Regions from separate parts of the Homo sapiens genome. Here region 2 is linked to region 1. Evidence: fine-mapped expression QTL. Tissue or cell type: lung. Region 1 holds a variant in brackets; the other region holds the start of a gene. All regions are shown on one strand. Distances are from middle to middle. Region 1 overlaps DNAJB12 (DnaJ heat shock protein family (Hsp40) member B12). Region 2 holds the start of DNAJB12 (DnaJ heat shock protein family (Hsp40) member B12).

Evidence for each region. PIP is the estimated chance that this variant, and not a neighbour inherited with it, causes the effect.
Region 2: DNAJB12 starts here. The variant in region 1 is fine-mapped to the expression of DNAJB12 in lung (TOPMed, PIP 0.95). The same link has a PIP of 0.9 or more in monocytes.

What each region holds. Positions count from the first base shown.
Region 1 is chr10:72,327,627-72,338,665 of GRCh38, reverse strand. DNAJB12 (DnaJ heat shock protein family (Hsp40) member B12) reads left to right here. Exons shown (of 9, transcript NM_017626.7): 6 at 355-464; 7 at 1,970-2,142; 8 at 2,735-2,886; 9 at 4,049-5,803. The coding sequence ends at 2,856. Among named protein-coding and RNA genes, the nearest start is that of DNAJB12, 22 kb to the left of the region's middle. RefSeq lists enhancers at 2,760-2,879, 3,440-3,849, 9,889-10,088 and a silencer at 6,356-6,605. The variant TAG/G (reference allele first, on the strand shown) is at 4,550.
Region 2 is chr10:72,349,601-72,360,639 of GRCh38, reverse strand. It overlaps DNAJB12 (DnaJ heat shock protein family (Hsp40) member B12), which reads left to right and starts at 5,721. Exons shown (of 9, transcript NM_017626.7): 1 at 5,721-5,875. The coding sequence starts at 5,743. RefSeq lists enhancers at 5,495-5,744, 6,135-6,264.

The sequences.
Region 1 (11,039 bases):
ATTTGTGTGGTTCACATCTCAAAAACTTGTATATACTGCATGTCTCCTTCCAGCCCTGCCTTCCATTCTCCTGGAGGAAGCAACTTTTGCTGATTTTTTTTTTTTTTTGGCATTCTGTCAAAAGTAAATGCAGACACCTCACTTCCTCCTGTATTTCACACCAGTTGCTGCTTTGTTTTTATCTGGGAAAGCTGGCAGGTGAAGGAGCGTCTGTGTTTTGGAGCCTCGTGGAGGGAACGGCAGAGTGGTGTCATGTCTCCCCAGGCTCCACTATTCTAGGGGAGCTAGTGGTGATTATGGCTGACACCACACCCCACCCAGGTCCAGCAGAGTGACATTGGCTCTTCCCTCCAGGGCGGGCTAGGGGTGTTTGTGCAGCTGATGCCTATCCTCATCCTGATTCTCGTGTCAGCTCTCAGCCAGCTCATGGTCTCCAGTCCACCCTACAGTCTGAGTCCAAGACCGTGAGTACATGGGTGAGGCCGGGCCATGGGCAGACAAGGGGCTTTAAATTCTCAGCCCCATCAGGGGCCTTCTTTCCCATCCTGATCCAGCCAGTGTGCGATCATAATGCAGAAACCTGGCTTCGAATCAAGAAAATATACTTTCTCTATTCAACTAGGACTCTTAAGCTTTTTAGGATTATGGTCCCCTAAGAAATTGCAGCGAGAGCTACAGAACTTTTCCCTAAAACTATGCACACATGTGCACACACACATACACACACACGATACACATGTACACACACACACAATACATGCACACACATAATACACATGCACACATACACGCACACATATACACACAGAGTTTTGCATATAATTTCGGCGGCTTTGTGACTCTTCCCTGCCCATCTCCCCTGCCAACCCTGACGAAGAACCTCTGCTCCTCGGCTCTGGTTGGGCTTCCTGAGGCTGTGGAAAGAACAGGGCACTAGAGTCAGACAGAGCAAGCATGGCTTAGAATCCCAGCTTCTCCACTAAGAAGCTGTGTGACCCTAAACAAGTTATATAACCTTGGTTTCCTCATCTATAAAATGGGAATTATAACATCCACCTGCTGTGGAAATTAATGAGTAATGCATATAAAATGTCTGGCCCACTAGAAATGCTCAACAATATTAGTTTAATGAATGCTTAGTCTCGACTGCCAGGAGTGAACTTGAGGACATTTCATGAGCCGTTAGGGGGTCAGCTCCCCTCACTGATGTCCAGCACCTGGCCCAGGGTCAGCTACACAGTGGGTGCACATCTTCAGTGGGGTGGGTCCCCCTCTCCCAAAAGGTGGCCACCTCTGGCTGGGAGCTGGCAGGACCCTTCTCAGCCAGCAGGGGGCAGAGTCGGTCCACTGGACCCTGGCCGCCGGCTCAGGCTCCCTGTGGCCAGATGCCAGCCCTTTTCCCTGCAACTGGAGAGATGTGAGGAGCAGAGGACTAGGGCAGGGACTGTTGTCCCCAGAGCACTGGTCCTGTCTGGGTGTCAAGGCTCTTCCCACAGCTGACAGAGCCTGTGATTGGAGCTGGGAGGATAAGGCTCCCTGGAGCCCTTCCTGTCATTTTGTTCCTAAGCCTCTTAACCCTACACTGGGAACTCCTAGATAGGCAGGCAAGCACTCAGCAACAATTGGCTTAGGGGATGAATGGGGAGATGGAGGCACAGAGGCAGAGCCCAGATTCCCTCTCAGGTCTCCAGTTCCCTAGACCAGGCCTCTCCCCAAAGGCCCCAGGTCAGCAGTGTGGTAAGCAGGGATCTAAAGGCAGGGCGTCCTGCGGTCTGGGCCACGTGTGTGGGAGGACGCTGCCTTTTCCTCAGACTCTCCTTTCAGGGAGTGTGCGGGTCCCTGCTCTGGTTTGAGAGGGAACCAACTACTCCTCTGGTCTGTGCGGCACCTCCTGTCTTGGGGCCCATACCCCTAGAGTGCCCTGGGCATGGGGACCCGCACCCACTTTGAACCTGGTATTTCTGGCCAGGTCCGTGGGCCACATCCACAGGCGAGTCACTGACCACCTGGGTGTCGTCTACTATGTGGGAGACACTTTCTCCGAAGAGTACACAGGCTCCAGCCTCAAAACAGTCGAGCGGAATGTGGAAGATGATTATATCGCCAACCTCCGGAACAACTGCTGGAAGGAGAAGCAGCAGAGTGAGTGTGGGGGGAAGGCGGGGGCTGTATTTGGGAGGTGGCTTGGGATGAAGCTGGAAAGCAGGGGAAGGAGAGAGCCCTGCTCACCCTGTGCTCTGAGGGCCCAGCCCCTGGCACTGCCCTGCACCAGCCACCTCCCAGACAAGAGCTGGTCTCCACTCCTGTGTTTCTCCGGGGCTGGGAGCCAGGGGCCACCTGGTAGTTTCCTCAGGTTCCCGTAAATCACTGCCATCAGCCCAGCATGTTGGCTGCCAGAGGTGAGTGTGTAGAGATGGACTGGAGCGGATGGATCCCTGGCCACCCCCTGACTGTGCTCCTGGATCTGTCTGTGGGACCCTGGGGAGGCCTGACCAGGATGACAGGGTCTCACCTTGGCTGGCCTCACTGCATTCTAGAGAAAGGCGCCTCTGTCACCCTCGCCCACATAAGGACTGTAGTCTCTGCTCCTCCATGGTCTTCCTAATGGGAGGCCAGCCCTGCCCAAGCCCCGGGCATGTACCAGCTTTCCTCCGCCCTCCACAGCCCTCGCAGGCTTCCTTGCAGGCTTCGGGAGGTACTGGGTGTGCACTAACCCTGTCCCATTGCTTTGCAGAGGAAGGCTTGCTGTACCGGGCACGCTACTTTGGCGACACAGATATGTACCACAGAGCACAGAAGATGGGCACCCCCAGCTGCAGCCGACTGTCAGAGGTGCAGGCCTCCCTGCATGGATAGTCCTGGGCCAGCCACACCACCGAGGTCCAAGTATGAGCCAGGGCTGCCTCCACCCTGCAACTCCTGGCAGCTTTGGCCCTGGTCATGAGCAGAGGAGGGAGGGGGAGAAAGGGAGGAAGCCTGGTGATTGTGGCAAAGACTCCTGTCCCCAGCCTGACCTCCAGCCTCCAGAGACCGAGCAGCTGTGGGGCCTGCTGGGAAACCAAGGTCGGTTTCCGCCCTCTAGCGATGCTGTCCTCCCCACTCCTCCGCTCTGCTCCCTGGCTCCAGGGGTGTGGGGGACCCCAGAACCAGGCAGAGTGGGAACTTGAAACTGTTGCTGAGGGCCACCCGGGGCTTCTTGGTCCACTCCAGCCATCAGTCAGCACGGCCCTTTCTCCAGCACAGCAGACTATTGTCCGTGCCCTGGTATTTAGGCCATCACATATGGTGGGGCCCAAGAGAGCCCCATATGCACACTGCCTGCCTGATACCAGGAAGAACCATGTGGGAATAGGTGGGCCAAGAGCCCTCCCCTTTCTCCATCCCTCCAGCTAGGAGGAAATGGAGCAAGATGAACAGGCAGCCACGAGGTGGGTGGGAGCTGGCAGTCTTGGTGGCGGCAGGGGCCGCGGGCCCTGACCACCCCCCTCTGGTGGGATCTGAGGCACTCTCTCGAATGCCGTCACACCTGGCAGCCTGGAAGCCACAGGCATCCGGCCTTGCCCAGGCATCTCGCCTGCGGTCTGAGGAAGGGAACAGAAGGTCATGAGTTCAGGGTCAGACGCAGCCGCTCAGCACAGGAGGGGTGGAGGGGAAATGAGAGTTGCTGGTAGCAGGCTCCCTCCTTCTGCAGCCCGGCGAATGGGGGCGCTGGGCTCTGTTCCCAGCGTTTGCCAGAGGTGGCCACTTCAGCCAAGCCCAGAGAAGTGTGGGCAGAAGCAGTGAAGGTTCTTCTCTGTGTGGGTGCCCTGCCCACCCCCTCCTTTGCCTGTGTCCTCCCGGCCTGGATCCATGGCTGACTCTGCCTGGAGGCCATTTGTGCCTGCCTCTGTGCTGCCGCAGGAGGGCAGGCCGCAAGTGGGGTTGGTGGGGGTCGAGCGGGCAGCACGGTGCAGCGGTGCAGTGGCAAGGGGGGCTACTTGTGTGGCATAAGCTAGAGGAGCCGGTGCCGCCTGAATGCCGAGCTAACTGTTGCCACTCTCCTCCCCAGACTATGAAATCCCTGGAGAATTTTTGGTGACATGCACTGAGCCAAGGTGATGGACTGTATATTTGAGGAAAGACAAACAAAGAAACAAAATTAAAATGGAATTGGAGGCCGAACGCTGCACAGCTGCCCTCTCTCTCACCCAGTAAATGCAGAAAGCTCTTAGGACAGACAGAAAACCTGCCATGGGGCTGCTTCCCTCCCTCGCAGGGCTGGCGGAGGCTCCGCATCGCCTCTCTCCTAGGATACAGAAACCATGGCAACGAAAGTAGAATGTAAAACTCGCAGCAGATATCAGTGGGAAGGGCTGGGGGAGGGGGCACCCAGCTGCCTTTCCTCCCTCACAGGAGCCACCACCAGCCACCTCTCAGGAGAAGCCAGAGGCCCTGGCCAAAGATAGGAGGAAGAAAGAGAACTCTCCATAGAATGTAATTTATAGATGCGTGTATATGTATATATATCTATTTATATGTAAATAGGCATATATGAAGATATATATATATA[TAG/G]TCTACTTTTTAAACTCTGCAGGGATTTGGTTAAGTTGTTGAGCTGATTTCTTCCATGTTTTAGAAAATGAGGCCTGTTTGGGGAAGGTACCCTGGTGATGTTTTTGCTAGACATTAGCTGTAGCTGACAGCATAAGGAGAGTCGCATCAGAGCTTTTCACAGCCCCCCGAAACCCCAGCCTGGTTTTGATGGCAGCAGTAATCATGATAGTGTGAACCCGCGAAGGCCTCAGGATTATGGTTAACCTGGAGAGGAGCAGGCCATGGAGGCAGGTGCCAGGTCAGTATTGAGTCACAGTAGAGGCCCCACAAGGACCTGCTTGGGTGAGACCACCTCTCCCCTCTCAGCAGCGCTGGTGGGCTCTTTGTCCTGGTGCCCAGGAGCCCTCCAGCCCCCTGCCCACAGAAGGGAAGGCCTGCAGAGGGGGCCAGGATCTACCTAACCATTTCCCCACCCCTAAGTCCCTCAGTGGGCTTTGCCTTATAGGTGCCACAGGGCACAGCTCCATCATTGCCACTGGTTTTTCCTAAGTCATGCACCAAGGACTTCAGAAAGTTCTTCCTCCGAGTCAGTCAGTGGTGCCGGGACCCCAGGGCAGCCTCCTCGACTCCTGAAGAAAAGGCAGTGCCCGTGGCTGCCTCTGTCTTCACTCGCTGTTGATGTGACCGCCAGGCCTCCTCTCGTACCTTGGACAAAGGATACACCTGAACCAGAATAGTTTTCTTACCCTCACATTGAAATGAGGATTTTGCTTAAAACAGCACTTGCCGCCAGTGGGAGGAGGGAGGTTTTATTTATTCCCACAGTTTCTCCTGGGCCTTCTGGAATGACCATGTTTTCCTGTGGCGGTGGGTGTGTCATTGCGCCCGCCGTCTTCCAAAGCCTTACTTCCCCAAGCTGCCAGCCAGGAGGTGATAACCACCCTCCCAGAGTTTCTCTCGGCTCTTTTTTTAAAAGTCCCCCAACAAATAGGATTCTTGCTGGGAAAGGAAGTTCGGTAAGGAAATGTCAAATCTGGTTTTTAAACAAGGTCCAACCCTGCAATGAAGCAGCCACTTCAGCCCAGAGAGATTATAAGAACTGATGTGGCCAGAGTGCCTACCCACTGTGGCCCCGGTGCTCTGCCCCCACGCCCCGACCATCTGGTCTTGGTAGATGTCCCTAGACGGGCTGAGCCATGTGCAATAAGAACATAGATCCTAAAGGATCCTCTGGAAGCTGTATTTCTTGAATTAGAATTCTCAAATTGTACATCTGTTAATATATGTTTATTATGTGACTGGCCGTGGTGGGTCTGCATTGAGCAGGGAGGCCTAAGGGGTGGGGGGGAGGGGGCACAAGCCCCTGCTGCTGCTGACACTGTCCAGCCTGTGCCACAAGGAGCTCTAGATGATGAGCCTGAATTTCCCCCGACCCCTGGCCCTGGCTAACAGCCACTTAAGCCACACATGCTGTTCCAGAACTAACTCCATCCAGGCAGAGGGGTGCTCAGGTGACTGGGGGGCTGCAGGACCTGAGCAGTCTGGGTCCCTGGGGTCCCCAGCGCCAGTCCTGGCTGGGCATCTGGGCCACGACCATCACCCTCTGCTTTTCCCTCTCCCAATCCCTCCCCCCCACACCCTCAGGCCTGCCATGTGCCCGCAGAGCATTCGAAATTCCCGGCCCCAGCCTGGAGCTCGATCCCACTCAGGAGCCAGATCCTGGGAAAAGTGTTGCGAGTTTGTTTCCATCGTCCTTCCCACCATCCTCCCCCAAACCGCCCCCGCAGCCCGCCCTCCTCTCCAGGAGGTTGAAAAAGTTTAAAATGTGGCAGCCCAAGTCGGGTCGGGCTCCTGTGAATGGAGCGGCAGATCTGCCCAGGCCTCCCAGAGACAGGGCCCGGCAGCCCTGACTGGCGGACCCAGGCCCCTCCCGCGGCTGCACCAGCCAAAGACAGGCGGGCTGCCCAGTGGTGCCACCGTGGCCCGGGAGCTCATTGGCTGCCCCTGCCCAGGGTCACCACTGCCTGCCCTGGTGTGCAAGCCGCCACTTGTTAGCTGCGGTTGGCAGAGGCGTTGCAGGCACCCCCATTCACCCACCTCATCCCCCCTGCCCTCCCTGTGTGGCTTGGCCGTGAGCCAGAGGAGGTGGGATGCACGCTCTGACTGCAGCAAAAAAGGCTTTGACAAGTGTCCCCCACCCACTGTCAGGTGGCAGAACGCGCCACTGCATCCCAGCTCCCTGGCTCCACTAGCTTATAGCCTTGTCCCTTGCTGCTCCCAGGTCCAGAGAAAAAAAAACTGCTCCAGGGACAAGGAGCACACACCCGACCTGCCTGTAACCTCATCCCCACCCCACATTGCCCAGACAAAGTCACCTGGCGTCTGGAGCAGGCACACAGCCATGCCAAGAATCAGGTAAATAGACTGTTGACATGGTTCAGAAGCAACCCAGCGTCCCTACCAGACATCACGCCATGTGACATGAGCAAGTCAGCTCATTTCCCAGAGCAGGAAACAGGCTTGGGGGAGGAAAGTGGCGCCCAGGGTCTTGAAGAAACTGTGCCTGTCTCTGGGGTCCTTGTAGCAGAGTGGTCATTCTACAAACAGTTGCTGAGCCCAAATTTGCTGCACTCAGGGAAATCAAACCCACTGGTGTCAGGTAGAGTGGGCAGAAGACCCGAGTCCAGGAGGGTGGAAAAGGATGAAAAGGCCACACTGAGGATGGTGGCACTTCATCTGATGGGCTTGGCCTAGGGAGCAGCTGCCCATTCCAGTAGGTGTCTCCTGGCAGTGACACGGGCATCCATCTGGCTGCACCAGGAAACGTCATCCCCAGGAGGCAGCCTCGCAGCCCCCACGGGGGCTGAGGCTGGATCTTTGCCATTTACTGACTGGGTGACCTTGGGTGTCCCTGAAGGAGTTCAGGAAATGCCACCCCAAAATCTGCCATTTTGGTGTGCTGATTACTTCAAACTGGGGGCACTTGAGCAACAGCAAGTGCAGGAAGGGCTTTCTCTGAAGTTGCCTCATCTGCCTAAGTTGTCCTGAACTCCCTCCTGGAAATCTTACCTACCAAGGAGGATTGACTCATTGACAACAACTGCCTATTATTCTTGGGGCTGCTCAGACAACTGTTAAGACCTGAGAGACTGACTTTTTTTTTTTTTTTGAGATGGAATCTCGCTCTGTCACCCAGGCTGGAGTGCAGTGGCGCAATCTCGGCTCACTGCAAGCTCCGCTTCCCGGGTTCACGCCATTCTCCTGCCTCAGCCTCCCGAGTAGCTGGGACTACAGGTGCCTGCCACCACGCCCGGCTAATTTTTTTGTATTTTTAGTAGAGACAGGGTTTCACTGTGTTAGCCAGGATGGTCTCGATCTCCTGACCTCGTGATCCGCCCACCTCAGCCTCCCAAAGTGCTGAGATTACAGGCATGAGCCACCATGCCTGGCCGAGACTGACTTTTTATCTGCATAACGAGACAACTTTTGCTCACCATGCAGTTCCTCCCCTCACCCTCCCAAACTTGCATTGCCATCACCCACCAGAAGCTCCCAGCCCGTTTTTTTTTTTTTTTTTTTTTTGGTTTTTTTTTTAAGGTACAAAGGTTATCCTGGACCCCAGTTCCTTTTCTGTAGCTCAAGATGTGATCTTTCTTGAAATTGCATATTTTGTGGGGCTCCCATGCCTATGTACGTAATTAAATATGATTTTTCTCCTGTTAACCACTTTATCTGTCCATGTAATTCCTAGCACAGTCAAAGACCCTAGAAGGGTGGAGGGAGCCAGTTTTTGCTTTCCTGTGTCATTTGACTGCCCTTTGCCTCAGTGTCTTCATCTGCAAAATGGGAGTGATACAAACACCTACCTCATAGGATGGTTGTGAGGAGTAAACAAGTTACCACATATAAAGCACTTAGAACAGTGCCTGGTACATGGCGAGTGCCATTTGGGTGTTTCTTGTTTGTCCTTAGTGGACAAAGATTAGCTGAGCAATGACTGGGTGTCAAGTCCCATTCCAAGCAGTGAAAGCTCCAAGGTGACTGAGACGAGGACTGCCCTTGAGTAGAAACCCTGGGAGCGGAGCAGTTGTGAAGGCTCTAGCCAGGGACTCTTGATAGAGGAACTGGCGTTTGTGAAGGAGGTGGGTACAGGCAGTACTGGGGTGGGGGTGGAGTGGGTGCTCCAGCATGAGCAGAGGCCCGGAGGCCGGAGAGTGCAGAAGTGAGCGCATTTGGGAGCAATGCCCAGGCCAGGCCCCCAGTCTGTACCTGTCATCATGCCAGGCCCACCCAGTGGCCTTGGGCAGAGAACTTTCCCAGGCATGAATGAGAGACACTGAGCTTCTCCACTCCTGGCTGCACCCTGTCCACTCAGCAATTCACTCAGCAAGCATTTCTGAACCTTTCTTGGTGGCCTGCCTGCCCTTAGGGAGGCTGCAACTAACTCTATAAGCTGAGAGAAGGCCATGTGGTGGAGGGGGTAACAGGGCAGACAGGACTGTCACTCCCGCCCCAGACCCTTGTAAGGAGATATTTCCCTAGGGACAGGGCCTGGACCTCCTGTCACTCTCACAGCCACTTGGGCATGAAATAAAGGTCCAGGGCTCAGGCAGGAAGAGGGGCAGGCGGGCAGGCGCTCTCTAGGACCCCACGGCTAGTCTGCCCAGAGCCCGGGAGTTGGGGCTTTGCTTGGGGAGGGGAGGGCCTGCCACATTTTGTCCACCTTCCCCACCCTCCTACCAATTTGGTCTAAACAAAGTCCCTAGGGAGGGAGGGCAGGGCTGCTCCCTGGCTGGATTTTTCCTTGAGGAGGCAGGGTGCAGCTCCCCACTGGAGCCCGTGCTAGTCAGAGCAGGGATCAGGCTAGGGCCTGCAGGGACCCCAGCTGGCAGTCCCACTACCTCGACTGGATTATTCTCATTTTCCTGATGGACTCAGATGAGGAGGCCTGAGAGACAGGTGCCTGGCAGCACAGGAGGATGCAGCGGGCTCCTTCAGATGGAGAAAGTGGGGCCAGAATGGAGCTGGCCAGGCCCGGCCTCATTCCCCCACACTGACAGCCCAAAACCTCCCCTGCACTCCTCCTGGCCCCACATACTGTGCAGGGCCCTCCCACCCTGACTGCAGCCTGCGGAGCCCCTCCCTCCACCGTGGAGCCCTGCTACCCGGGTTCCCTTCTGCCTGAGGTTCCTCTCACCCCTCAGGGCCCAACCTCCTGCCACCTCCTCAGGGAGGTCTGGCCTGGCCCTTTTGGGCCTCTCACATCCTGTTCTGGAGGTATTTGTGTAGTTCTTAGGCAAAGGCTTCCCTGGAGAAGAGGTTCAGGGCTGCAGCCCCAGGGCCTGGGCACCACAACCTGGGGTCTCCATGGGAGGCTGAGTGAAGGAAGGGCCCATCAGCACTGAGGCACTGTCCCCACCTGCAGCATTCCCAGCCTCGCCTACTCCTCTGCCCAGGGTCACCCTAGGGAGCTGCTTTGCAGCCATAAACCCACACCCTGGCTGGGGGACACTTCTCCCAGATCTTAGAGGGCTTAGACCCAGGGCCATCAGCCACGGTGTGCATCCAGCTGGACGGTGGCTGGAGGCAGCAGTCGCTCATGGGACGGGCACTGGGCGGGGGCTTTTTCCTTTTCCTGCCTCCGGGGGGAAGCAGAGTCCTGCTGATCCTGCTGAAAAGGCCCCAGGTCTCCTCTCCCTGCGTAAGGACAAATGTAGCAGGGGCCAAAATGAGAATCACAAACATTGGTCATTGAGAGGAGTGCGGACTCCTGTCCGAAGAGGTCACCACCCCAAGGGGTAGAGGAGGAGGCTCTCTCCAGCACTCAGGCCAGCCACTCCTGGAGTCAGACCCAATTCTGTCCCCGGCCGCCCCAGTGCTGCCCTGGCCACAAGCCCTGGAATCACCTCTGGCAGGCTCTGCCATCTGCTGGCTGCCAGCCCATGGCCTGCGTGCAGAAGGTGGCATCGTGGGCCCTAATTTTGCTTCCAGCCACAAGTCAAACAAGCCAGCTACCACCACTGCAGGGGCCACATGGGCAGCAAGTGTGTCCATGGTGTTCAGGCTGTGAGTGACAGGCCTTGGGAGGCCACCGCAGGTGCTCAGAGCTGCTTCTCTGTGGATGTCTTTAGTCCTCAGTCTCTCTCTGGTCCCACCTTGGCATGGAAGCACTGAGCCCAAAGATCGGAGTTCCAGCCTCCGCCATGGACACGCTAGGCCAGGAGGCACTTTTCATCTGTATCATTTACTTATAAAATCTTATTATCGGCTGGGTGAGGTGGCTCACGCCTGTAATCCCAGCATTTTTCGAGGCCGAGGCGGGTGGACCAAGAGGTCAAGAGATCGAGATCATCCTGGCCAACATGGTGAAACCCCGTCTCTACTAAAAATACAAAAATTAGCTGGGTGTTGGTGGCACATGCTGGTAGTCCCAGCTACTCAGGAGGTTGAGGCAGGAGAATGGCTTGAACCCAGGAGGCGGAGGTTGCAGTGAGCCGAGATTGTGC
Region 2 (11,039 bases), 22 kb before region 1:
AATTAAAGCCAACAGGCATATAGATACGAGTGAGGTGAAGCATTGGCTCAGTAAAGATGGGGAAGGTACAATGGGAAATACAAGCATGTTAAAGGCAGATTGTGAATTCTTGGTATCCCCAGAGGAGAGAAATCTAGAGGCTGGTGGTCACCCAATACAAAGGTGGTTTTAGGTCTAGGAGCAAAATGAGGAGATGCTGAGATTCATTGGTAGATTCCTTTTTCCAGTGACTTCTGGATATCTGTGAAGGTGGCAATGAAAAGTTTTGGTTTTTTGTTTTGTTTTGTTTTGTTTTGTTTTGGAGACTGTCTCTTCCATTTGTTGCCGAGGCTTGAAAGCAGTGGTGCCACCTCGGCTCAATGCAACCTCTGCCTCCCAGGTTCAAGCAATTCTCGTGCCTCAGTCTCTCAAGTAGCTGGGATTACAGGGTTGAACCACCATGCCCAGCTAATTTTTGTAGTTTTAGTAGAGACAGTGTTTCACCATGTTGGCCAGGGTGGTCTTGAACTCCTGATCTCAAGTGATTTGCCCACCTTTGCCTCCCAACGTGCTAAGATTACAAGCATAAGCCACGGCGCCCAGGCTTTGTCTCTCTTTTTAAGCCCCATCCACCCACAGATACAATGATCCCAGCTAGTCAGAATGGATGTTTCCAGTTTTTTCCCTTAGATCAAAATCATGACATCTTGATTTCAAAGATCATCAAGGAGAGAGTGTTCCCAAGTCATCCCTAGCATACCAGCTCCAAGACCAGGGACTATAATGTTTAACATGACCTGAGCAAGGCGGGGTGTCTCTCTTTCCTGGCCTTTGGACTGAGAGGGACAAATAAAAAGTCAAATTAGCCTCAGGACCAAAAGCAAGACATCCAGTGTGACTCAGATTTGTAAGAAAGGCAGGGGCTCCTTAGACCAGCCTTCAGGGTCAGTTCATAATCCCTTCTGAAACAGCACAGCCTTTCTGAAAACAAACAGCTTAGGGAGGCCCTGTGTGGCGGCTCACACCTATAATCCCAGCACTTTGGGAGGCTGAGCTGGGCATATTACTGGAAGTTAGGAGTTCGAGACCAGCCTGGCCAACATGGTAAAACCCCTACTTTTTGCATTTTGTTAATCTCCACTTTTTGTATTTTGTGAAAATACAAAAATTATCCAGGCATGGAGATGCATGCCTATAATCTGAGCTACTCAGGAGGCTGAGGCATGAGAATCGCTTGAACCTGGGAGGCAGAGGTTGCAGTGAGCTGAGATCATGCCACTGCACTTCAGTCTGGGCAACAGAGTGAGAATCCATCTCAAAAAAAAAAAAAAAAAAAAAAGCAAAAGGAAACAGTGGCCGGGCACGGTGGCTTATGCTTGTAATCCCAGCAATTTGGGAGGCCGAGGCGGGCAGATCACCTGAGGTCAGGAGTTCCAGACCAGCCTGACCAACAAGGTGAAACCCCATCTCTACTAAAAATACAAAAATTAGCCAGGCTTGGTGGCATGTGGCTGTAGTCCCAGCTACTCGGGAGGCTGAGACAGGAGAATTGCTTGAACCTGGGAGGCAGAGGTTGCAGTGAGCCAAGATCGCGCCACTGCACTCCAGCCTGGGCGATGGAGCAAGACTTTGTCTCAAAAAAAAAAAAAAAGAAAAAGAAAGAAACAGCTTAGGGACCAAGATGAGCAGCAGAGGGGGGCAAGGAGAAGAATGCAAAAATAAGGCATAAAGGGCCCCTACCACAAGCAGCCCGCTTCTCCACATCGTTACTGATCTGGACCCTGCCAATCAAGCCAAAGCACTGACCCACAATTTAAATAGGACTTTGTCATTTTATATGAATTGTAGGAAAAGAGAAGGGCTCACCCGTCAGTAGTTGGCCAGTCACAATCCAGTTCCCTAACACAAGAAAATGACAGACTTTCTTTTCTACTTGATTGCCTTCTTCACAGTGTGAAGTAGAGTCATGCACCACATCATAACATTTTGGCCAACTACAGACAGCATATATGACAATGGTCCCTTAAGATTATAATGGAGCTGAAAAAGTCCTATTGCCTAGTGACATTCATAGCCATCATAAGGTCATAGCACAATGCATTACCTTTTCTATGTTTAGATACACAAATACTTCCCATTGTATTCGGTATGGTAATGTTCTGTACAGGTATGTAACCTAGAAGCAACAGGTCATACCTTAAACCCTAGGTGTGTAGCAGGCTATACCAACTTAGGTTTGTATAAGGACTCTATGATGTTCGCACAGTGATAAAATCACCTAACAACACTTTTCTCAGAACATATCCCTGTCATTAAGTGACACATGACTGTATCTTGTAGTCAGCAGGAGAAGACAGGCCTCATGATAGGAAATGGAAGAGGATACTTCATGATTCTTAGCAGGAGACAGGAAGATGGAAATTGTCGTGCTAGGTCAACAAACCTCAGAGAGGCTGTTTGAAAAGGATCCCAGCATTTATCCATGGACACATTAGGGACCTATCAATTTGTAGAGAACTTAAATTTCTCCAAGTGTAGGACTGTCTTATCAAGGAGGGTCTGTACCAGGCCAGCATGGAGTCGTAAGGGTTTGCATTGGAAAGGGAAAAATGGGAATGGAAAGGAAGGTTGGATGTGAAAGAATTTTCCAAGGAGCATGTATAGCTGAGGAGGCCATGACCTTGCTTCTTTCTTATGTGTGTATTTATTTATTGAGACAGGGTCTGACTCTGTGCCCAGGCTAGAGTGTAGTGGGGCAACCATGGCTCCCTGCAGCCTCGACCTCCCAGGCTCATAATCCTCCTGGGTAGCTGGGAGTACAGGCGCATGCCACCACACCTGGCTAATTTTTGTAATTTTTTTTAGTAGAGATAGGGTTTCACCATGTTGGCCAGGCTGGTCTTGAACTCCTGACCTCAGGTGATCCACCCACCTCACCCTCCCAAAGTGCTGAGATTACAGGTTTGAGCCACTGCGCCCAGCCACCTTTACTCTCTTGAATCCATTCCTGTTGGGTTTTCACCCCTACCACACACTAAAAGCCATTTTATGGTCAGGCACAGTGGCTCACACCTGTAATCCCAGCACTTTGGGAGGTTGAGGTGAGAGGATCACTTGAGCCTAGAAGTTTGAGACCAGCCTAGGCAACACAGTGAGACCCCATCTCTAAAAAAAAACTTAAAAAAAAAACTAGCCAGGTGTGGTGGAGCACTCCTGTAGTCCCAGCTATTCAGGAGGCGGAGGTGGGAGGATTGCTTGAGCCCAGAAAGTTGAGGCTGCAGTGAGCCATAACTGTGCCACTGCACTCCAGTCTGGGTAACAGTGAGACCCTGTCTCAAAAAAATAAAATGAAATAGATAAAAGCAATTTTGTCAAAGTCAACACTGCCCTCTACACTGCCAAATCCATTGGTCATTTCTCAGGCCTCACATTGCTTGGCCTCTCCACAGGATATGACGTTTGACCCCCCCTCCCTCCTTTTCTAAAAAAACTGTTTGTAGAGACCGTGAGGGGGGGCGGTCTCATTATGTTGCCCAGGCTGGTCTTGAACTCCTGGGCTAAAGCGAGCCTCCCACCTCAGCCTCCCCAAGTGCTGGGATTACAGGCATGAGCCACCATACCTGACCTACTCATTTCCTTACAACCTGCTTCTTCACATTCTCCTTTACTGGATTTTCTTCCTCTTCCAGATCTTTAAATGTTGGGATTTCGTGAGGCTCAGTAATCAGACTTCTCTGCTCTTCTCCATCTACACTCACTTCCTTGGTGCATATATATATATATATATATATATATATATATATATATATATATATATATATATATATATATCACAGCTCACTGCAGCCTTGACCTCCCATGCTCAAGTGATCCTCCCACCTCAGCCTCCTGAGTAGCTGGGACTACAGGCGTGTACTACCACACCCAGCTAATTTTTTATTTTTTTGTAGTGATGGGATCTCACTCTGTTGCCCAGGCTGGTCTCAAACTCCTTGCCTCAAGTGATCCTCCCACCCCTGGCCTCCCAAAATGTTGGGATTATAGGAGTGAGCCACTGTGCCTGGCCCCAAAGTTATATTTCCAGGTCCTTTTTGCCTAAACCCTACGTATGTACAACATCCTAGTCTGTATCTCTGCTTGATTCTAAAAAGCATCATAAACTGAATCAAACCCTTAATATTCCCCCACCAAACTGCTTTTGTAGTCTTTTCCATTTCCTTGTTTTAGTAAATAGAAATTCTCTTCTTCCAGTTATCAAGCCAAAAACATTGGAATCATCCTTGAATCTTCTTTCTCTCACAGCCCACATCCATTGCGTCATTCTGTCTTCAAAATATATCCAGAATTTTACTACTACTCACCACCTCCGCCATCACCCTTATCCAAGTTACCATTAATTTTCACCTGTATTATAATAGTAGCTTCCTGACTCTCATCCGGATTACTGTAGTAGCATCTTACCAAATCCTGCCTGAAAGGCCAAGCAATGTAAGGGCTGACAGATGACTCGGGGATTCGGCAACGTGGAGGTCACTGGCAACCTTCACAAGATTGCTTTCACTGGAGTGATAGCCCTCGAAGAACGGGATAATGATAGAACTGGATTACACTCTGTAGTAGAATCTTTTTTTTTTCTTCTTTTTTTTTAGATGGCGTTTCACTCTTGTTGCCCAGGCTGGAGTGCAATGGTGTGATCTTGGCTCACCGCAACCTCCACCTCCCAGGTTCAAGCGATTCTCCCGCCTCAGCCTCCCGAGTAGGTGGGATTACAGGCCATGTGCCACCATGCCCGGCTAATTTTGTATTTTTAGTAGAGACGGGGTTTCTCCATGTTGGTCAGGCTGGTCTCGAACTCCTGACCTCAAGTGATCCGCCCGCCTCGGCCTCTCAAAGTGCTGGGATTACAGGCGTGAGCCACCGCGCCCAGCCTGTAGTAGAATCTTTACGCTCCCTAGAATGTATTCGCCTTCCTGATCTGTTATAACTCACCAAGAGAATTCCCTTTTCAGAGCCTTTGCACTTGCTGTTCCTTCGGCCTGACCACCCTTCCTCCAGACAGTCACATCTACCTGTTATCGTTCCTGAATTCTGGTACCTGTTAATGACAGCTTCTGAGAGGTTTCTTTTATCGCGCTATTTAAAATAGCGCCTCCCACTCTCTATCCCTGTGTTTTCCATAATTTTTCTTCAGAGCTTTTATCACTATCTGAATCTATCTGGAGCTCCCCCAGCCTACACACACTGGAATGTAAGCTCCATGAGAGCAGGAGCTTTGTTTTGCTCACCCCTGTATCCCCATCATAAAACCATGCCTCACAAACAGTGGGCACTCAATATCTGTTCAGTGAATAAATAACCTTTGTCTGAAACGTATGTAGTTACATTACGTATATAGATCACCACTTAGTAAACCGTCTGGGAATAACAGGCACTCCGAAGGCCCCAGTCTCATCCCGACGGCTACCACGTGACCTTCCTGAGCTTGGGTTTCCTCCTCCGGAAGATTAGAGGGTTGGCGCATACTCAACTCTAAGACCTCCGGAACATGGAATCTGGGCGTGCACCATTATTGACACCTACACCAGCCGTCCCTTTCTTAGAAGACATACGGTAGCACTTCCACCCTCGCTCAAAACTCGGGAAAGGAGGGGCGGAGGGTGGATGTCATCACTCCGCGCCCGGCTGCCCGCGACGCGCCGGCGGGTGGCGCAGCCCTTCGCTCGCCCGGCCTCCCCCTCCCTGGTTCCGCGTTCTGGTTCCGCCATGGAATCCAACAAGGATGAAGCTGAGCGCTGTATCAGCATCGCCCTCAAGGCCATCCAGAGCAACCAGCCCGACCGGGCGCTCCGCTTCCTGGAGAAGGCACAGCGGCTGTATCCGACGCCGCGAGTTCGCGGTGAGTGTGAGGTGCCGGAGAGACTGGGGACATTAGAACTGATGGGGGGAACACGGGAACGGACCGACGGGAGCAGTTGGGGGAGGGGGAGGGGTGGCGAGGCGCGGCTACGCCTGCGCACTGAGGCGCGCGGTGGCTGCTGGGAGGCGTAGTTTTTCCCTCTTGTTCCTCTGCGGGATGCGAGCCGTCTGGAGACTCGGGCGGCCGGGACTTCAGCTTTCGGGGTGCTGGCGGAGCCCGCTGGGGTTTGAGGTCTCCGAGAATGAAACGCGCTGGCAGCCGGGACGAAGGGAACTTACCTGGAAGTGAACTCGAACTACTTTTCCCAAGGGGCCGTTCGGTAGCCCAGGCCAGTCGCCGGCCTGGGAAATATTACAGTTCAGGAAAATAAACATAACTCCTTTAAGGGAGAGAATGGGCGCTAGACAGGGAGACATTTCTGTTCTTCGGGCGCCAGGGAAAGGCGCTTCCGTATCTTCACTCCCTCTCACCTCTCGGGCTGAGGGTCAGGGACCACTCTCCCAAAATGCAAGCCGGCCTTTGCACCCACCCCAGTCCGCCGCCTCGGACTGTCCTGAAGCCGGGCCCCTCACTCCTCCCGATGATGAGATTCGGAGCGGGTGGCCTGGTGGGAGGTGCTGACCTCAGCCACCGCCAGTCCTCCATCGCCCGCAAGAGTCCAGCGGCGGTCAGCCATGTGGACGCCGAGGCTGCTGAGTTGCCCTGGACAGGAGCCTCCTGAGCCAGGGAGGGAAGAGTGAAGCTGGCTTTACAACTCATCACCTCGCTTCACCCGGGAACCCTTTCTTTTTTCTTTAACCTAAGTTTTCCAAGGAGTTTTTCTTAATCCACGCTAGAGGGGAGAGAGACACCGGGTGGTGCTTGTGATCACCACTCAGTAAACCGTCTGGGAATAACAGGCACTCCGAAGGGCCCAGTCTCATCCTGACGGCTACCACGTGACCTTCCTGAGCTTGGGTTTCCTCCTCGGGAAGATTAGAGGGTTGGCGCAGATAATGTGATTGGCAATAATACCCATAGGGCTTTGCAGTTTAGGAAGCTCCTTCACCTGTGCCTTCTCACTTGAGCCTGCCAGTCAGGGATGCAGAGCAAAGATCATTATCTTTATTCTATGGGTGAGGAAAATCTCTGAGGTAAGGGATGCCCAGGATGACACAGCTAGAAAGTAAAATGTTCTGTGACTCTGTAAATGTTTATGAAGGAAAAGAAATGAAATTGAGGAACAGCAGTCAGCCTCCTAACCGGCCCTGCCCGCCTGATGAGATTGAGAAAGCGGAACGCTGGTGGAAGAGGTAGCCTGGACTGCTGAACTTTCCTCCCTCCGGACTCTTGCAGGTTGATCTTTGGCCTGTTTGCCTCCCCTTGGAGAGGGTTTCGGGCTGTATTTGCCAGGACACCTGAGGTAACCTGCTCGAGGAGCCTCCCTGTGAATTAATTCATATTCTGTGGTGGGGTGGTATCCTCCAGCTGTCAGAATTCTGCCTGACACTGATGCTGCTGCGGGCTCAGGAGCAGGCAGCCAAGAAAGGATGGGCCACAGGGCCTCTGGGGATCTTTCTGTCAGCAGGCCCCTGCACCAGTTCAGGAGCTTGAAGGAGTGTCCTCTCTGGGGCTCAGGCTCTGGAATTTGCTGAGACAGAAGAACCACCTGCATGCATATTTGTCATATTTGTGCTTTTCTGGAAAGACTATGAGACTATACGCCTTATGCATCCGTGTAAACTTTACCATCTGCAGCCCTCCACTGAGCTGACAAAGACCTGGGATTAGTTTAGGTCTGGGACAGGGAAAGATCTTACTTCAAAAATAGAGGGCAGGGCTACCCACTGGGCTGGCTACCTGCCTCCCCAGGGGGAGTAATACAGATATATTAGGTGGCGGTCTATTGCTTTGGGTTTAGGCTCATCCCAGATGCTCATTCAATGCAGCAGACTTTTGTTGAAGATCATTTATGTTTTGTTTGCAAAGTCCTCTGCTTGGTGCTAGCAAGATTGGTAAAATGTGATCCCTCACCTCAAAAGAGCTTATAATCTAGTGAAAGAGACAAAACTTACAGAAACAAATATTACAAGACAGAACTGTAATTAAACAAAAAATAAACCCAAGGTTAGACGCTGAGGACTTAAGGACAGGCATGAAAAAATCAGGCCCCATCATCCATGGGTTCACAGTCTGATGGTGGGGAGGAGGTGCGGAGGACAATCTCCTGAACATTAAATTATCAGCAGTTTAGTGAGTGCTGTAGCAAGTGCATAAAAATAATGTTATCTCACAGTGAGGGAATGCTTTGGGGATGACAGGAGTTAACATTTGAATTGTGCTTTGGAGGACGGTGTGAGACTTGAGGAAAGGCATCCTGGAAGAAGACAAAGGAGCTGAAAGTTGTAACGTTTGGGGGAAGAGATCAAAGTGTAGCAAGATTTAGAGGCAGTGGAGGTGGTAATTCGTATACAGAGAGGATTAAGTTTGGGAAATAAAATGGGGCCAGATCATAGAAATCCTTTTCTACCAGGCCAAGATATTTTCACCTTATTCTGTAGTTAGTGAGGAAACCATTGAGGTTTTTGATAGCAGGAATAAAGTACGGGCACTGTTGTTAAAAGAGAACAGCATGAAAGGTTAATGAGAGGGAAGAGAGCTTCAGGGCAGGAAGCCAATAGGAGAGAATTGCCTTGAGCTGGTTGGATATTCTGAGGGCCTGGGACAAGGCAGTCATGGATAAGGCTAAGGTCCCTGGAAAAGAGGCACCAGGCCTGTGTGAGAGAGAGGTGCAGAGGAGAATCAGATGGGATGCTGGGGAATCAGAATTGAAGCCCCTGTGACCAGGAAGAAACCAGGCTGAAGAACTGAGATGGGAAGAGATGAGCAGAGTGGGAGGTGCCAGTGGGATAGTCCAAAGGAGCTGTCAGCCTGGAACTCAGGAGAGCGCTCCAGGTTACAGGTGAAAGTGTGGTATCGTCTGTTCCCTGGAGCTCACTGGAGTTGTGCATGGCTGAGGTCACTGTGGGAAAGTATAGACCATGGAGAGAAAGTTGCTGCAGGCACAATGGCAGGCAACACCTGCCCTGAGCCCACAGGCAAAGGCAGAGGAAGCAACAGATTGAGATGGAGCAACAGGAAAAGGCAGTCCCCGGAGAGGGCAGCGGCCAGGTAGCCATGGAGAGGTAATGGCAGCAGGTGGTGAGCAGCCCTGTGTGATGCCGCAGGCACTGCATGGGAAAAGGACAAGTTAAGAGTTGAAAAGGGAAGGATCGAGAGCATGGGCAGAGGATGGTCTTGGAGAGGTGGAAGGGCAGAGAGGGGAGAGTCACGAGAGAGGGGAGGCTCAGAGCAACCTTGAAAGGATGAGGGACCTCACACTGTTGGCCTTTGCAGCAAAAAGGGATGTGAGGGGGCTTGAAACTCCTGCTGCAGGAGGTGGGACAAGGAGGCACTGAGTTAAACTGCAAAGCAGTAGCTGGGCCCTAAGCTGGGAGGTCACAGACTAGAGATGGTGGAGCCAGTCAGTCCCTTTCTGGGAGTTTCTGTCCAGTAGCTGGCAGCCTGGTAAGCCATTGGCTTTGACTCAGGCTTTGTAACAAATGTGGAAGGTGCCAGATTTCCCAGGGAGCTCACGAGAGCATTTGTAGGCCTCAGTTTCCCCAGCATACAAAGAGAGGATTGGCTGGGATGATCCTGAGGTTCCTTGCAGCTCAGGCTATCCAATGTTCTGTGAAATGGTTGACTCTGGGCTAAGTCATGAAGGCCAAGCTGGGAAGGCCAGCCCACAGGAAAAGGAGACGGATTGCTGAGGGATTCTGCATTCAGAGTCCAGGAGTGAGAGATGTTCTGGTGCTGGCGAGGTCCGGGGTGGGGTTGTACCCTTCAAGTCAGTCAACCTTCATGAGCCCCACTGTGCACTTAGCCCCCTTCCATTCACTGTATTTCACAGAATCTTATTTACCCCTCAGAGCACTCCTATGAGAGCAGAGATCGTCTCTCCACTCAGGAACCAGCTAACCTGGCAAGGCCACATGGCTAGCCAGCAAAGACCCAGAGCTGTCCATCTCCAATCCCAGGCCCTTTTCTGACTCACTGTGAGCACCGTAGGTACACAGAGCCCAGAAACTCAGCTACTCACTTACTAACAAAGTCACGGTCAGAGACAACACTGTATATTTGCTGGGCATTGGGCTGAGTTTTTTGCTGGCATTCACTCATTTCCTCTTTTAGCCTGTATGATGGAGATAGAGTTTTGCACAGATGAGCTAAGTTACCTTGTCCAAGATGACCCTTCTAGCAAATGGCAGAGCTAGGTTTGAACCCATCGGGCAGTCTTTTTTTTTTTTTTTTTTTTTTTTTTTTTGAGACAGGGTCTCACTCTGTTGCCCAGGCTGGAGTGCAGTGGCACAATCACAGCTCACTGCAGCCTCAACCACCCAGGCCCAAGTGATCCTCCCACCTTAGCCTACCAAACAGCCGGGACCACAGGCATGTGCCACCACACCTGGCTAATTTTTTTATTTTCGTAGAGACAGGGTCTTCCTGTGTTGCCAAGGCTGGTCTCGAACTCCTGAGCTCAATCCATTCTCCTGCCTTGGCCTCCTAAAGTGCTGAGATGACAGGTGTGAGCCACTGCCCGGCCAAATCTAACTCTAGTCTGGGTTCAGTGGCTTTGGCCATAGAAATCCTCTCAGCTCTACCTCAGGTGCCTCTCCACCGCAGCTCTGTTCTCTTCTATCGAATTCCCTTCCTTTTCTAAGTCTGCCAGCTTTACTGAGAAGGTAACATTAAGCTGTTCTGTCTCTTTTTGTGACATTGCCTGTCAGCCTCTGTGCCATGAGGGATGTAAGCATGAAGCTGTCACATCCCCCAGGCCAGAAGAGAGACCCTACTTGCCAGCAACTGGAAATCTTTAATTTCCAACTCAAGCAGAAAGCTTCTATGTGACCCAGGGCACCCCCATTCTCCTTTGGGCTCTCTTTCTGTACTGTAGGGAAATTAGAGTGGCTGATTCCCTGTAACTGCCCTGAAAAGCTTCCAGAATCTTCTCTGAGAGGTACAAGAGAGAGCCTGTCCCATCTCCTGGCTAGTGCTCCTGCTCATCTCTGGTAGTTGAATAACTGGTTATTTTGCCCTTAGGATCTGCCAGGCTCAGCCTGGG